4 linked regions of the Homo sapiens genome follow. The protein of the gene in region 3 interacts with the protein of the main gene of each other region in a pairwise test. Each region holds a gene or a part of one and is shown on either strand. Other genes may lie near its edges.

The links. The genes of interacting proteins can lie anywhere in the genome.
Region 1: the proteins of UBE2W (region 3) and RNF220 interact in a two-hybrid assay, tested with the Homo sapiens proteins (one large-scale study listed by IntAct).
Region 2: the proteins of UBE2W (region 3) and MARCHF3 interact in a two-hybrid assay, tested with the Homo sapiens proteins (one large-scale study listed by BioGRID and IntAct).
Region 4: the proteins of UBE2W (region 3) and CHFR interact in a two-hybrid assay, tested with the Homo sapiens proteins (one large-scale study listed by BioGRID and IntAct).

The regions. Positions count from the first base shown.
Region 1 is NC_000001.11:44,632,255-44,635,754, forward strand, and holds part of RNF220 (E3 ubiquitin-protein ligase RNF220), read left to right. Parts: intron 1-88; coding exon 89-131; exon of another isoform or gene 132-136; intron 137-2,983; exon of another isoform or gene 2,984-3,290; coding exon 3,291-3,334; coding exon of another isoform or gene 3,335-3,412; exon of another isoform or gene 3,413-3,500. UniProt on the Homo sapiens protein: E3 ubiquitin-protein ligase that promotes the ubiquitination and proteasomal degradation of SIN3B. Independently of its E3 ligase activity, acts as a CTNNB1 stabilizer through USP7-mediated deubiquitination of CTNNB1 promoting Wnt signaling.
Region 2 is NC_000005.10:127,024,059-127,027,558, reverse strand, and holds part of MARCHF3 (E3 ubiquitin-protein ligase MARCHF3), read left to right. Parts: intron 1-3,500. UniProt on the Homo sapiens protein: E3 ubiquitin-protein ligase which may be involved in endosomal trafficking. E3 ubiquitin ligases accept ubiquitin from an E2 ubiquitin-conjugating enzyme in the form of a thioester and then directly transfer the ubiquitin to targeted substrates.
Region 3 is NC_000008.11:73,819,863-73,823,362, forward strand, and holds part of UBE2W (ubiquitin-conjugating enzyme E2 W), read right to left. Parts: intron 1-3,500. UniProt on the Homo sapiens protein: Accepts ubiquitin from the E1 complex and catalyzes its covalent attachment to other proteins.
Region 4 is NC_000012.12:132,842,606-132,846,105, forward strand, and holds part of CHFR (E3 ubiquitin-protein ligase CHFR), read right to left. Parts: intron 1,530-3,500; coding exon 1,422-1,529; intron 479-1,421; coding exon 406-478; intron 1-405. UniProt on the Homo sapiens protein: E3 ubiquitin-protein ligase that functions in the antephase checkpoint by actively delaying passage into mitosis in response to microtubule poisons.

The DNA of each region.
Region 1 (3,500 bases), on a different chromosome or scaffold from region 3:
GGTCCGGTGCTGGGGCGGGGGCCAGGACTGCAGGCCGCGCCTGACGCTCTCTTTTCTTTTCTTGCATCTGCCCGCGATCTTCTCCCAGACCTTTCTGCGAGTACGAGCCAACCGGCAGACCCGACTGAATGGTGAGTCCTGCCCGGCCCCTCCCTCCGCCCCACCCCCGGCCTCCTCCCTCCCTCCCTCACTGCCTGCCGCTCCTGGCTTGCCTGGGTCTCTTCGACTCTGGGGCCCGTTGGCTTCTTCGCAGTCACGGCGCCTGAGTATGTGCAAACCAAAGCTGCCGCTCTCAGTTTCCCCGTCTGTCTAATGGAGGTATGGCGCCCAGCTCTTGCCCAAACCTCTCTAAAGGCCCTGAAGAACCCTGGGGGGGCAATAAGTGCCGGAGAATGAGGAACGAGCTACACAATTCTACTCGGGAGCTCAGCTTTGAATTTGCAAACTGCTGGGACCTCACTATACAAACCTGCAGGGCGCTGAGAATGTTTTTCTTCCAGTTTTTAATCAGTGCCCAGTAGTGTGAATACAGCCCCTCTGCTGAGACTTGACAATACAGTGAGATCTGGAGTTCCCACGGCAACAGGAACTAACTCATCCCAGGGCTCTTTGAGTTATCAGTCGGCCCACATTTCACAAAGGTGATCAGCGTGGGCTCGACAGCTCTTAGAGGCCTTCTCTGAAAGCAGGCCGTGTATGCACTACCTAGCAGCCCCCCTTTTGGATTCAAACCTCTGGAGCATTCCTGTTTGCTGAATACAATTGAATGATCCTAGCTTTTTGTGCTTACTGGGGTGTGGTATCTGGGGGGTGGCTGTAAGGGGTTTAGGGTCTCTGGGTCAGCTGGTAAGTGAGAGAGGCCATGGAGTTCAAGATCCCCAGCTCTTATCACTTGGTTTCTGCTGCCAGGCTGAGCCCTAGTCTGGAAAAGGGAGAAATTCATGATGGGCTGGCGCCATGTTAAGCACCATTCTCACAACGCCTCTGAGAAGAGTATTACACACCTTTTGTGAATAAGAAAACAGGCTCTGAGAGGTGAAAGTGGTTTGTTTAAAAGTACACAGCTGGGATGTAACTGAGCCATGATTCAATTGAAGTTTGTTTCCCACCAAAGCCCGTGTTTCTCCAACCATGCCATGCTACCTCCTTGGCAAATGCTTTGATTCTTCCTACTCGTACGTAGCCTCTGGATAGAGAACAGAACTTTCCCTACCACACTTTGGTAAGCTTAATTCAGGATTTAGAAGATGAATGGGAAGGTGAAAACCAAACCTGCCTTCCTTCTCTGAGAATTTGCAGATGAAGCCCAGTCCATTGGGGTGCTTTCCAGGGACAACAAGGGATCATCTGCTGGCCTGTGTGTCCTGAGCAAGGAGCGCATCCAGTATTGTGCCTTTCTTGACCATTCCATGAGATTCGTTTCCTTAGTCATTGAACATTGTGGTATCATCAGCACCTTCTTCCCCAGGGAGGCATTCCCTTGGTGTAGGCATGGTAGGGAGGAAGCTTTGTGTTGGCACACTGCTCCTTACTACACTTCTAGAACTCTCAGGGTCCTTTGCTCAATGCCTTTCTGATGTTTCACGTCCATTCTCCATCCCAGCCCTGGCTCTAGAGTGTCAAGGCTACCTAAGTCTGAGATTCCAAGAGTTAGGGCAGCCAAAATGAAGAGTTCTCGATCTGTGTCCACAAAGTCAAGTGAGGCACTAGGACACAGTCATGTCACCTATAGTGAAGACACAGGAAAGTGAAGAGATGGACTGGGCTACAGACCAAGTTTCCTCAAACTCCATGCCCAGTTCTGGCAGGATGGTAGCTTTCCTTTTGGTTTGGGTCTTTCTGGGGTTGCTCTGTTTTGGAGTTGGAGTAGCTCCCTGCCTCAGGCTCACAACAGGCAGGAGCTGGAGCCCTAGCACACTCACTGGGACCAGTCTTTGTTGATGCTGCTCAGTTAGGAGGTCCCCTTGAAACAGGAGGGCATTCTAGGTTGTGAAGTCAGTTCTGGTTTCCTATCTTGCCTTTGCCACTTTTTAGCTACTTGGACACGTACCTTGATCTCTCTAAGCTTTGGGTTTCTTCATCTGTTAAAATGGGATAATGCAATCTAGCTTCAGCAAGTGGTAGTAAATGAGCTACCTTGGGTAAGGTACTTGGCTGTGAGCCTGACACACGGTAGAAGCTTAAATTGTAACATAGCAGCTCTCACCTGTGTTCCCCTCCTAGATTGCATTCATGAGCTTCCCGTTAGGGTCACTGTCCATGAGAAAGTTCTTCCTGGCCCTGCTTTGGGGAACCTTTCCCTCCTTTGCTGGCTCTCCCCACTCCCCATCAGTCTGGTCCCAGAGTAGCCATCTCTGATCCTGCTGTGGCATTCTGGAAGGGACTAGAGGGAAGAGAGTTTCTTGTTTTGACCCCTTCCTGCTTCAGTGACAGGAGGGCTACAGAGAGGGATTAGTGAGCTAATTAGAAATGATTGCATTGCTCAGCATTAATTAGCAGTGTTGTGGGCTTGCAGTGTGCACTTTGGAACTGAGCCCCCTGTGGGACAACATGGCAGGCAGCCCTCTGCCTCCAGGGCCTGCCAGCCCCTCTGTACTGATTAGAAATGATGGAACAGGTTCGGGTGGGCACAATAAGGGCTGCCTTCTCAGGGTTCCCTGAGCCTTCTGACCTGGCTGCCAAAGGTCTGACCCAGACCGTCTTACCTTTATGACTGGGCCTCAGTCTCCTCTTCTGTGAAATGGGATTAGTGGACCTCAGAGAAATTCTTCCTGATAAGATTCTAGGTGGGATGCTAGGAGCTGTACCTCAGGGCTCTTGGCCCAGGAACCAAAGAGGATTTAGCTGATGAGTGAACAGCAGGCCAAGTCAGGCCATCGGAGGGGTTAGGTTCTAGTCAAGAGATGCTCTTTAGAGTTGTATTTCCTGACACCAAAAGAGTTCATGGTCTTGGCCTTCTGGAGAGATACCTAGCAACATGGAGTGTCTTTGCTCACTGGATTTTTATTAAACACTGCAAATAGAAAGGTATGGGTAGACCTTGCACCAGCTGCAGCCAAAGAGTGGACTTACTCACTGGCTTAGTTAGCACCAGTCTCCTCCCCAGGTGCTCTTGGCAAAGCCCAGTCCCCAAAGGAGCAGGAGGTATTTCAAGATGAGGGCCAGATCAGGCACTGAATAAAAAGGCCAATGGCTGGCAAGAGGTCAGGATGTGTCAGCTCCACTGGGACCCTGGGGGCTGCAGTGACCGTCTGCTTGTTCTGTGCTTTGTTTTCGGTTTCCCCGTGCAGCTCGGATTGGGAAAATGAAACGGAGGAAGCAAGATGAAGGGCAGGTATGTCCCCTGTGCAACCGCCCCCTGGCAGGATCGGAGCAGGAGATGAGTAGGCATGTGGAGCATTGCCTTTCTAAGGTAGAGGGGCCATCACCACCCACCTTCCTTCCCCGCTCCCTTCCCCCGACACTAGCTGCTGACTGCCCCTGAATCTGTGGGCTCTTGG
Region 2 (3,500 bases), on a different chromosome or scaffold from region 3:
AGTCTTAGTTCCTTCACCCCCCACTCTGAGTTCGGTGGGGTCCTGGGATGCTCTGGGGTGACTTTGCCAGTCCTAATTCACATGGTTGAGCATTTCCTCCTGCAAGGTAGAATCCTTATCTTCATGAGGCACCCTTTTTCTCTTTAAAAGCTGTTCTAGAACAAAGCCCAGCACCTCAGCTGGGCTACTACAGACTATATGAGGTCAATGATCGCCTTGGGAAGCTGTGACTATTTTGCTTGTGGCCAGGAAGAGTGTCCCAGGCCACCCACCCAGAGGCCCAGAGATTCTTACTTTCTGAAAGTCACCTTAGGAGTATTTTGAGCTGCCCAATTAATTGGGTAAATAGATTTTCTCATTGTCACAGAGATGTGGGTTGAGAATTGTTTGCTACCTCCCCTTTCACTGAGAGCACTGTGAATTTTTATTAGTTATTGCCAATTAGTTTTTTATTTATCATTTGATACTGACATTTGGATTCTGTTCTCCCATTTCAGACTGGCATAATTCTCCATTTAAGACTACTAAATAAGGTTTGAAAGAGAAAGGATCTATCAGAAGTTACCCTTCCCTCTTTCTACCATCCAAGTAGCTAAAAAAACAAATGACTTCTTTCAGAGGTGAGAAGTATCCTGATAACAAAAGGATGTGTATAGGCCAGGGTATTAAACTTGGATTGTTCCAGACCACTGGATCGTCACTGGAACTTTTACAGAGTAATTTCTGTTTAAAGAAGCACTTGGCAGGCATGTTGATAGGTCACTTACCTTAACAATCCTTTGAGGACAATGATTTTTTTCCACTTTGTTACAGATGAGCAAACTGCAGCTACAAAAGGATAATATTTAGATCTTGTCTTTCACATTCAAAGATGACACCAATAACTGAGAAGTTGGCCTTGCAACTTAAATTGTTTTGATTTAGGATTGTGGTGATATGATAGGGTTATGCTTAGTCGTTCATATCATCTACAATTTTTTAACCTTTTTCTTCAAATTGTTTCTTATATTGAATGTGACCTTGTAGTAGTTTTCTTTATAAAGTTAACTACCATATATAATAATTAGTTCAATGACCCTGACCTTAACCAGACAGTCTTGACCCAGAGAGGCAAATAATTTGCTAAAAGTCCCAGATTACAAAAGCGGCAAAGCCTACGTATAGAATCCTTTAGACATGTGTTTTAGCCCTGTGCTGTTTTGTCTGTTGTCATGTTAAGCTGCTAATGTTTTCACTCTGGCAAAATAGGGTTGCTTTTATTTGCCTAGCTTCTGTGTGATTGGATAGACTTAGAAAAATGGAAAAGCCTAAAATATACTATCCACAGCCCCTGATCATACAATGGGACTGATTTCTGCCCAGTTACAAAAACTATAGTAGAATGCTGCTTTTCTTGAAACTGGGCCATAGGTCATTGCAAGCTTCTAAGCAACAATTCTATTATAACTTTTTTTTTTTTTTAGCTATGGCATTCTTCTGGCATCTAACTTTCCTTTGACAAGTTCTTTTCAAGTTTTTTATGCTTCTTTTCTTACCCTTATCCCCATAGCAAAATCTCCTTGTAAAAAATTCACTTTTTAAATCAGTCTGCCCTCTTAACATCTCCCAGTTCTTCCATTTTAGCCATTTTACCATTTCTCCTCCGAAATGCCCCCTTAAGTTCCCAACCTTCACTTTAGCTTTTTGGGTCTAGTAATATCCTCTAATATACGACAGTCATTGAGCTACAGAAGTTTCACAACAGCTTAAGCTTGTGGATTTAATGATAGCAGTAGTAAGAAGAAAGAAAAAGATGAAGGATAATACTGAAGTCATGTTGATATGTGTGTCATATTAGATATTCCCAGCTTACAGTGTCAGTGGGGAAATTTAAGATTCAGATGAATGAAGTGACAGATGCACTCATCTGTGGCCTCACAGACACTCTCCTGATACAAGCTGAAAAATATAACTGAAGACAGCATCCTGGGTTACAGAAGGAAAACAAATGTTAAGCTCTGAGAAAAGAACTGGGCAAAAAGTGAAGGGTCAGGGGTGGGGTGGGTAGGATGGTGGAAAAGAAATACCTCCAGTAAAATGCCAGACAGGGTGGTAAGAAATTTATAGAGGTGCAGACGGTTTGGGGTTTCTTGGGGGCATTGATTCTGTTTTATATTGTCCTCACAACCTGCTCACCCTGCTTGCTTTAAATAATTTATTATAGCAGCAGGCCTTCCCCTGGTTAGTTTCTTTCTTTTTTTTTTTTTTTTTAATAACTTTTTCCTTCTCATCTCTGGGTCTAATCAGAGGCATATATAATAGTGTGGCTGCCCTGGAGTACTTAGGAAAATCTGTGATCAATATCACTATATTATAAACCTATGGCTGTTTTGTTCTATTTTGCAATGTTTTCTTCCCTGTTATATTAACTCAGTATCTGTGTTTTAAACAATATTTTATTAATCTCTGCACAATGTTACTTCTTGGCTTATTCCTTTTGGCTGGAACTATCTTTTGAGTAATCCGTCATTGGACCACCATTGATCTAATGATGTATTTATTGCTCACTGTTGCAGTACTGGCAAGAAACCTAGTGCGGTTCTAAAAATTTGATTAAAAAGAAATCAAGTTTTTGCAATGCGTAGCCATCCAACTATGTTAGGAGCTGCCGAGTATATTTTATGCTAAAATATAAACATATTTCAAGTGAGCAAAATGTGCTGGTTTTGAAGGCTTTTAAAACTTTTTGCTGTGAAATCATAGAACAACAAGAGAACTCATAATTGGGAAAATTATGAGTACACTCCCCCACCCCTGCCAAAGGTAAGATGTGGTACTTTTTCAGATTATACCCTTGAACACTAAAATAGATAGACTTATCTTTTTAATTGACAATAATGAAAACAGTGGTGATAAGAACTAGCTCCCAGTCCTTCAGTGATATTTCAGGTAATCTTTACGAATGAAAGTGAGCTGAAATTAATTAACAAATACTAATTGAGTACCTATCATGGGTAGTACTTCTCTACTTAGCCAATTCAGGATTCAGTTCAAATATTAATGCCTTTGGGAAGCTTTTCCCTGTCCCCGTTTGACCTGATGTCTTCTTCAGGCAGAACCCTTATCTGCTGTATTCTCCCTCTTGGAGCCCCTTGAGGCAAGGGACCACACTTTTCATCTTGTAGCTTCTCAAGCAAGGTTACTCAAGAAAGAGTTGCTGGGTGTGCTAGAGGCTACAAAGAATTACAAGTGAACATTTACAAGGCCTTAAAAGGATATGCATAAAGATAGTTCACCAAAAGTTTGAATGGTAGCAGTAAGTGAATCCTAGTGTTCAACTGTCAACTTTAGCAGTGATCTCAGCACTTCATAGAATTATTATATCATCCATTCCTACTCCATCCATCTCCAAAGTCCCTCTGTTTCATTTCTACCTTGCCTCCTCCTCTCACTACCTTCCTATGTGTCTTCTCTAAGGATGTCTTCAACTCCCACCCTAGGCTAGGTCATCTCCCCTGATT
Region 3 (3,500 bases):
ACAAAAGCAGTAATTTCACAATGAGATTCATCTATTCTAGAAATATTTTCCAAATTCTACTCTTGTAACTAGTGATAAACTCAGTACTGTTCATTGCATAGAAAGATGAAAGACTTTTCTTTCTTTTTTTTATTAGAGATGGGGTTGCCCTACGTTGCCCAGGCTGGTCCCAAAACTCCTGGGCTGCCTTGGCCTCTCAAAGTGCTTGGATTACAGGCATGAGTACCATGCCCAGCCAGAAAGATGAAAGACTAATTTAGGTAACAAGTGCTAATGCTACAGAGTTTCATCAAATAAAATTTTGGGGGAATTTTACTGCCCTAGAGGACTGGTTCTAGCCACTTTCCCAGGGCAGTGGATCTCTGCAAAGTTTCAGTTATTGGAAAAATCTTGAAGTCTATAAGCACATCAAGCATTGATGTTTGACCCATTATAATTATGTTAAAACTATATAGATTATGTATAAATACATTTTAAAAAATTTTAACGTATTACTGGCCTCAGAGTAGTTCTGCCATTTTCCCAATCAATGGATATTAGAATATACAACCTCTATGCCATGTGAGGGACTACAGAATTAACTGATATTAAAAAGGAATCCTCACTGGGCGTGCCTATGATCCCAGTACTTTGACAGGCCGAGGCGAGCAGATCACTTTAGGACAGGAGTTCAAGACCAGCTGGACCAACATGGTGAAACCTTGTTTCTACCAAAAATACAAAAAAAAATAAGCCAGGCATGGTGGTGCATACCTGTAGTTGCAGCTACTCAGAGAGGCTGAGGTGGGAGAATGGTTTAAGCCCAGGAGGCAGAGGTTGCAGTGAGCAGAGATCACACCACTGCACTCCAGCCTGGGCAACAGAGCGAGACTCTGTCTCAAAAAAATAAAAAACAAACAAACAAACAAACAAACAAACAAAAAAACAAAATAAAAAAACCAAGCCAGGCATGGCGGCAGATGGCTGTAGTCCCTGCTACTCTGGAGGCTGAGGTGGAAGGATCACTTGAGCCCAGGAGTTGGAGGCTGCAGTGAGCTATGATTACACCACAGCATAGGTAGATGACAAAGGGAGACTCTGTCTCCGCACCCCCACCCCACCAAAAAGTAAATTAAAAAAGGAATCCTTATATTTCAAAAAGAGTGAGAATAACTGACCTAGAGCTTTCAAAGGTACCATTCATTCCACATATAATCTTTCACTTTCAGAGAGAAAATTACTACATAGATAAATAGGCATTTTTTCCACACCGGTACTCGCATCTAATTGGCAGTATGGCAAAGGAGGAAAGGAAAGACTTGGGTTTGGGTCTTGACTGTCCTATAAACTAGGTATTAAAACGTGAACAAGGCACTTCACTTCTACAAGTTTCAATTTCTTCACATATAAAATGAGGATGAATCTACCTCCCCTAACCACTTCATTAAAAGATGTTAGAAAACAAAATCAGAATGGAAGTTAAATTATGAAGTACTATATAGAAATATTACCATACAGAATGCATGCAGGTGCAGAAAAAGTTAAGTTTGGATGTGACTATACAGGGACTTGAATGCCAGGCTAAAAACTTGATTCCATAGGAAATAAACATTAAGAGGTTTTACTGTCAGGGGGTGAGGAATTCTGGGGATGGTGGAGTGAGACAGAGTGTGTGTGTGGTGGGGGGGTGGAGTGGGGTGTGGGAGTGTGTGTGTGGGGGGGGGGGGATGTGTGTGCATGTCCATGTGTGTGGTATGTAACCAGTGAGATAACTGTGCCTTCAAACAAATCTATTGGCACCGTGAAAGGATGTAGGAATTCAAAGAACTAAAGGCTACTGTAATGGTTCAAATAAAAGATAAAAACCTGGACTAGGCCAGGCATGGTGGCTCACACATGTAATCCCAGCACTTTGGGAGGCCAAGGAGGTGGGCTGATCGCTTGAGCCCAGGAGCTCGAGACTAGTCTGGGCAACATGGCAAGACCCCATCTCTACAAAAAATATAAAAATTAGCTGGGTGTGCCATCAGATGGCCAAATCATTATTTACTGGACCAGACCTTTTCAAAACTATCAAGCAGATAGTCAAGGCCTGTAAAGTGTGCCAAAGAAATAATCCCCTGCACTGCAGGCCATACATTTCAATCCCTCTATCTTTAACCTCCTTGTTAAGTTTGTCTCTTCCAGAATTGAAGCTGTAAAACTACAAATCGTTCTTCAAATGGAGCCCCAGACAGTCCATGACTAAAATCTACCACAGACCCCTGGACCGGCCTGCTAGCCCATGCTCCAATGTTAATGACATTGAAGGCACCCCTCCTGAGGAAATCTCAACTGCACAACCCCTACTACGTCCCAATTCAGCGGGAAGCAGTTAGAGTGGTTGTCGGCCAACCTCCCCAACAGCACTTGGGTTTTCCTGTTGAGAGGGGGCACTGAGAGACAGGACTAGCTGGATTTCCTAGGCCGACAAAGAATCCCTAAGCCTAGCTGGGAAGGTGACCGCTTCCACCTTTAAACACAGGGCTTGCAACTTAGCTCACACCTGACCAATCAGATAGTAAAGAGAGCTCACTAAAATGCTAATTAGGCAAAAACAGGAGGTAAAGAAATAGCCAATCATCTGTTGCCTGAGAGCACAGAGGGAGGGACAACGATCAGGAAATAAACCCAGACATTCGAGCTGGCAACAGCAACCCCCTTTGGGTCCCCTCCCTTTGTATGGGAGCTCTGTTTTCACTCTATTAAATCTTGCAACTGCAAAAAAAAAAAAAAAAAAAAAAAAAAAAAAAATTAGCTGGGTGTGGTGGCATGCACCTGTAGTCCCAGCTGCTTCGGAGGCTGATATGGTAGGATCACTTGAGCCCAGGTGGCAGCAGTTGCAGTGAGCCAAGATTGCACCACTGCACTCCAACCTGGGTGACAAAGCGAGACGCTGTCTCAAAAAAAACAAAACAAAAACAAACAAACAAAAAACCAGACTACAGCACTGACATTAAGAAAAGAATGGGCTACCTTTCAAATGTAGGAGGGAGGAGTGTGGAAAAGAGAAAAACTGAGCACAAAAATAGACAGGTGGACAGTAACCCAGGATAAAGAAAAACAAAATGTTCTTTGTTATTGGAAAGATCAAGTTTAGTTGTGTTAAATTTGAGATGTCTGGAGGTACTCAAGTATTTCAACAAGGGTGTGAAATTAAGCCTTAAAAAAAGAAGTGTTCCCAGAGCTGTAGATCTGGGAGTTAGCTGCTTAAGGTGACTGAAGGTGAAAGAAGAGTGAGAAGAGTAACACAGTGCTGAATAAAGAACCTGGATAACACCAATGTTAGAAGAACAGACAAATAAAATCAGGGAAGGAGGATAAAATGAATTTGAAATAGGACAATAGGGAGAATTTATTACAAATGCTGTAACTTACAGAAATATTAAAGAAGAAATTCAACATAATGTTTAAGTTTGATATTTGATTTAGAATTAAATATTAAGGAAAGAGTTTAGAGAACACATTTTTGACTTGGTTTC
Region 4 (3,500 bases), on a different chromosome or scaffold from region 3:
GGGAAAGACACCACGTGAGGGTGACGATGTGACAGCAATCACAAATGCCTGCTCACGGGACGGACGAGAACCCAGCTGTGCAGCGCTTTGCGAGGGGGGCCTGAGGCCCTCAGTGACTGCAGCCTTCGACTTAGAAACGGCTAAGCCTGAAATGATGGGGTGTGCCCCGGATGCCTCAGACAACAGATAAAGCTACTCCAGCCAGGAAGACACAGAAGTGGAAGACGGAGATAAAACTGCATGAAACGAAGGGATAAAGGAAGAGCAGGATTTCTAAATGAAGATACCGGTTCCTAAAGGATGCAACCTGAGAGAAGCATAATGACCATATCAGCCTATTTATAAGCAGGCAGTTAACTCATTCATCACTCTGTAGCTGACGCCTGTGCCCCCAGCTGCACTCACATGGCGTGGTGAGCTTTCACCTGAGTGCGGCAGTTACGGCCCCAGTAGCAGTCAGGACGGGATGTTACGGCCACTGGAAAAAGAGAAGGGGTACGCATCTATGAGATGTATTGCACGCACCCACTCAGCTACCTGAATCCCAGCAGAGACCCAACGACAGACGCTGCGGTGGAAACGCACGGCCTCTGGTCCCTCCATAACTAGTTTCCTCGGACCGTTCTGAGATTTCAGGAAAGGAAACACATGTTTAACTAAAAACCCAACTGAGGGTCAGGTACAGTGGTTCATGCCTGTAATCCCAGCACTTTGGGAGGCAGAGGCAGGAGAATCGCTTGAACCTGGGAGAGGGAAGTTGCAGTGAGCCAAGATCACACCACTGCACTTCAGCCTGGGCGACAGAGTCAGACTCTGTCTCAAAAATAAATAAATAAATAAAAATTAAAAAATAAAAACCCAATTGAGGAAATAAAATTACCCCAGTTGACTATTGGATGTCTTTACAAATCTGTTTTAGAAACCCACGTTACACTCATGAGTAACTGCAAATAGACCCAGGGCCTAAAACAACCACAGCCCTGTATGGCCTGACGTCCTGCCGGCTCCTGACTGAGGCCAAATTCTGCTTAGAACATTGAGCAAAGTGCAAACAGGGTGTCTGTAAAGAAAAGAGTGCTGGCCGAGCGTGGTGGCTCATGCCTGCAATCCTAGCACTTTGGGAGGCCGAGGTCAAGAGTTCGAGACCAGCCTGGCCAACATGGTGAAACCCCGTCTCTACTAAAACACAAAAAATTAGCCGGGCGTGGTGGCGGGTGCCTGTAATCCCAGCTACTCAGGAGGCTAAGGCAGAAGAATTGCTCGAACTCAGGAGGCAGAGGTTGCAGTGAGCCGAGATTGCACCACTGCACTCCAGCCTGGGCAAAAACAGCGAAACTGTCTCAAAAAAAAAAAAGAGAGGCAGAAGCCAAGAAGCCAACCCAGACAGAACTAGAGCCATGAGGAAGTCGGGGGCTCCTTACCTGGCAACTCGGAAGCAGGAATGTTCTGCCGATACTGATAGGTCAGCTCACGGAAGCTGCGCAGGCCACAGCAGTAACACAGAACGGTGTCTCCCGTGACTCTGTAATCTGGAAGAAACACAGCCAGTTACCCAGCAACACCATCTTCCCAACAGCAGCGCACGGACTTCACAGCAGTGGGAGACTAACGCACTGACCATAAATGGGGTGAAGACAACGGGCGACACATTAGGAAAATAAGAACAAAGCCAATCTAGATACGAATTTATTTTTATTGAGACGGAGTCTCGCTCTGTCGCCCTGGCTGGAGTGCAGTGGTGCGATCTCGGCTCACTGCAAGCTCCGCCTCCCGGGTTCACGCCATTCTCCTGCCTCAGCCTCCTGAGTAGCTGGGACTACAGGTGCCCGCCACCACACCGGGCTAATTTTTTGTATTTTTAGTAGAGACTGGGTTTCACCGTGTTAGCCAGGATGGTCTCGATCTCCTGACCTCGTGATCCACCCGCCTCGGCCTCCCAAAGTGCTGGGATTACAGGCGTGAGCCACTGCGCCCGGCCACCAATTTATTTTCTTACAGCAAAACAATCCCACGTGGATATAACATTTATTTTATTTATTTTTTGAGACCAAGTCTTGCTCTGTCGCCCAGGCTAGAGTGCAGTGGCGGGGTCTCAGCTCACTGCAACCTCCACCTCCTGCGTTCAACTGATTCTCCTGTCTCAGCCTCCCGAGTAGCTGGGACTACAGGTGTGTGCCACCGTGCCCGGCTAATGTTTATACTTTTTTAGTAGAGATGGGGTTTCACCATGTTGGCCAGGCTGGTCTCAAACTCTTGTCCTCAGATGATCCGCCCGCCTCGGCTTCCCAAAATGCTGGGATTACAGGCGTGAGCCTCCACGCCCGGCCCCACATGGATATAAAATTTAAATATTAAAACTCCCAAAAAACAAGAAGAAAATGAGAAAATTAGCTATTTCTAAGTATGTCTTGAAAACCAAATTGCACAGAGGAAAGGATTTGTACATTTGGCTATCTACAATTTAAACATCAAAATTAAAATAAATACAACAAAAGTGAACTACTACTATAGTGGAAACATTTGCAACACAAATGAAAATGTGCTATACCCTTAATTAACAAAGATATCGGCCAGGCACGGTGGCTCGCGCCTGTAATCCCAGCACTTTGGGAGGCCGAGGCAGGCGGATCACAAGGTCAGGAGTTCGAGACCAGCCTAACCAAGATGGTGAAACCTCACCTCTACTAAAAATACAAAAAAAAAATTAGCTGGGCATGTTGGCGGGTGCCTGTAATCCCAGCTACTCAGGAGGCTGAGGCAGGACAATTGTTGAACCTGGGAGGCGGAGCTTGCAGGGAGCTGAGATTGTGCCATTGCACTCCAGCCTGGGTGACACAGCAAGATTCCATCTCAAAAAAAAAAATAAATAAATAAATAAAAATAAAAAAACTAAGATTAGCCAGGCATGGTAGCACACGCTTGTGGTCCCAGCTACTTGGGAGGCTGAGGTGAGATGATCTCTTGAGCCCAGGAGGTCGAGGCTGCAGTGAGCTGTGATCATGCCCCTGCACTCCAGCCTGGGCGACAGAGCAAGAACCTGTCTCATATATATATTTCTACAGCCTCCCTTAGTGATAAATTATCATACTCCACAAAGCATCGTGTGCCCCCCTGGAGAGGAGTGACCCTCACCAAGTGACTGACACATCAAGCAAGAGATTCACCAAGTCCCCGAGGGTCCCAGGACAACTGACCCCAGGACCTCTGGATAGACAAGTGGTAGAGACCCTCCAAGCTGGCCCCACCTGTTGGAGGCCACACAAATGTTTCTTATGATTAGGCATAATTGAAGCCTGTCAGTAACAGTATGAACCTGTGATCAATTTAGCAGCTGCCCAGTTGTTACCTCCTCCTTGCTCTTGTTACCCAATAAATATGAAGGGCTGTAGAAGCTCAGGGGCAGCCTTTACTCACTAGAAGCAGGGAGCTCTCCTCTTCTTCCCCATGTTGCCTTTCCTTAAAAGTTTCTTTTGTCTTTTTGTTTTCATTTCTACGTTTGT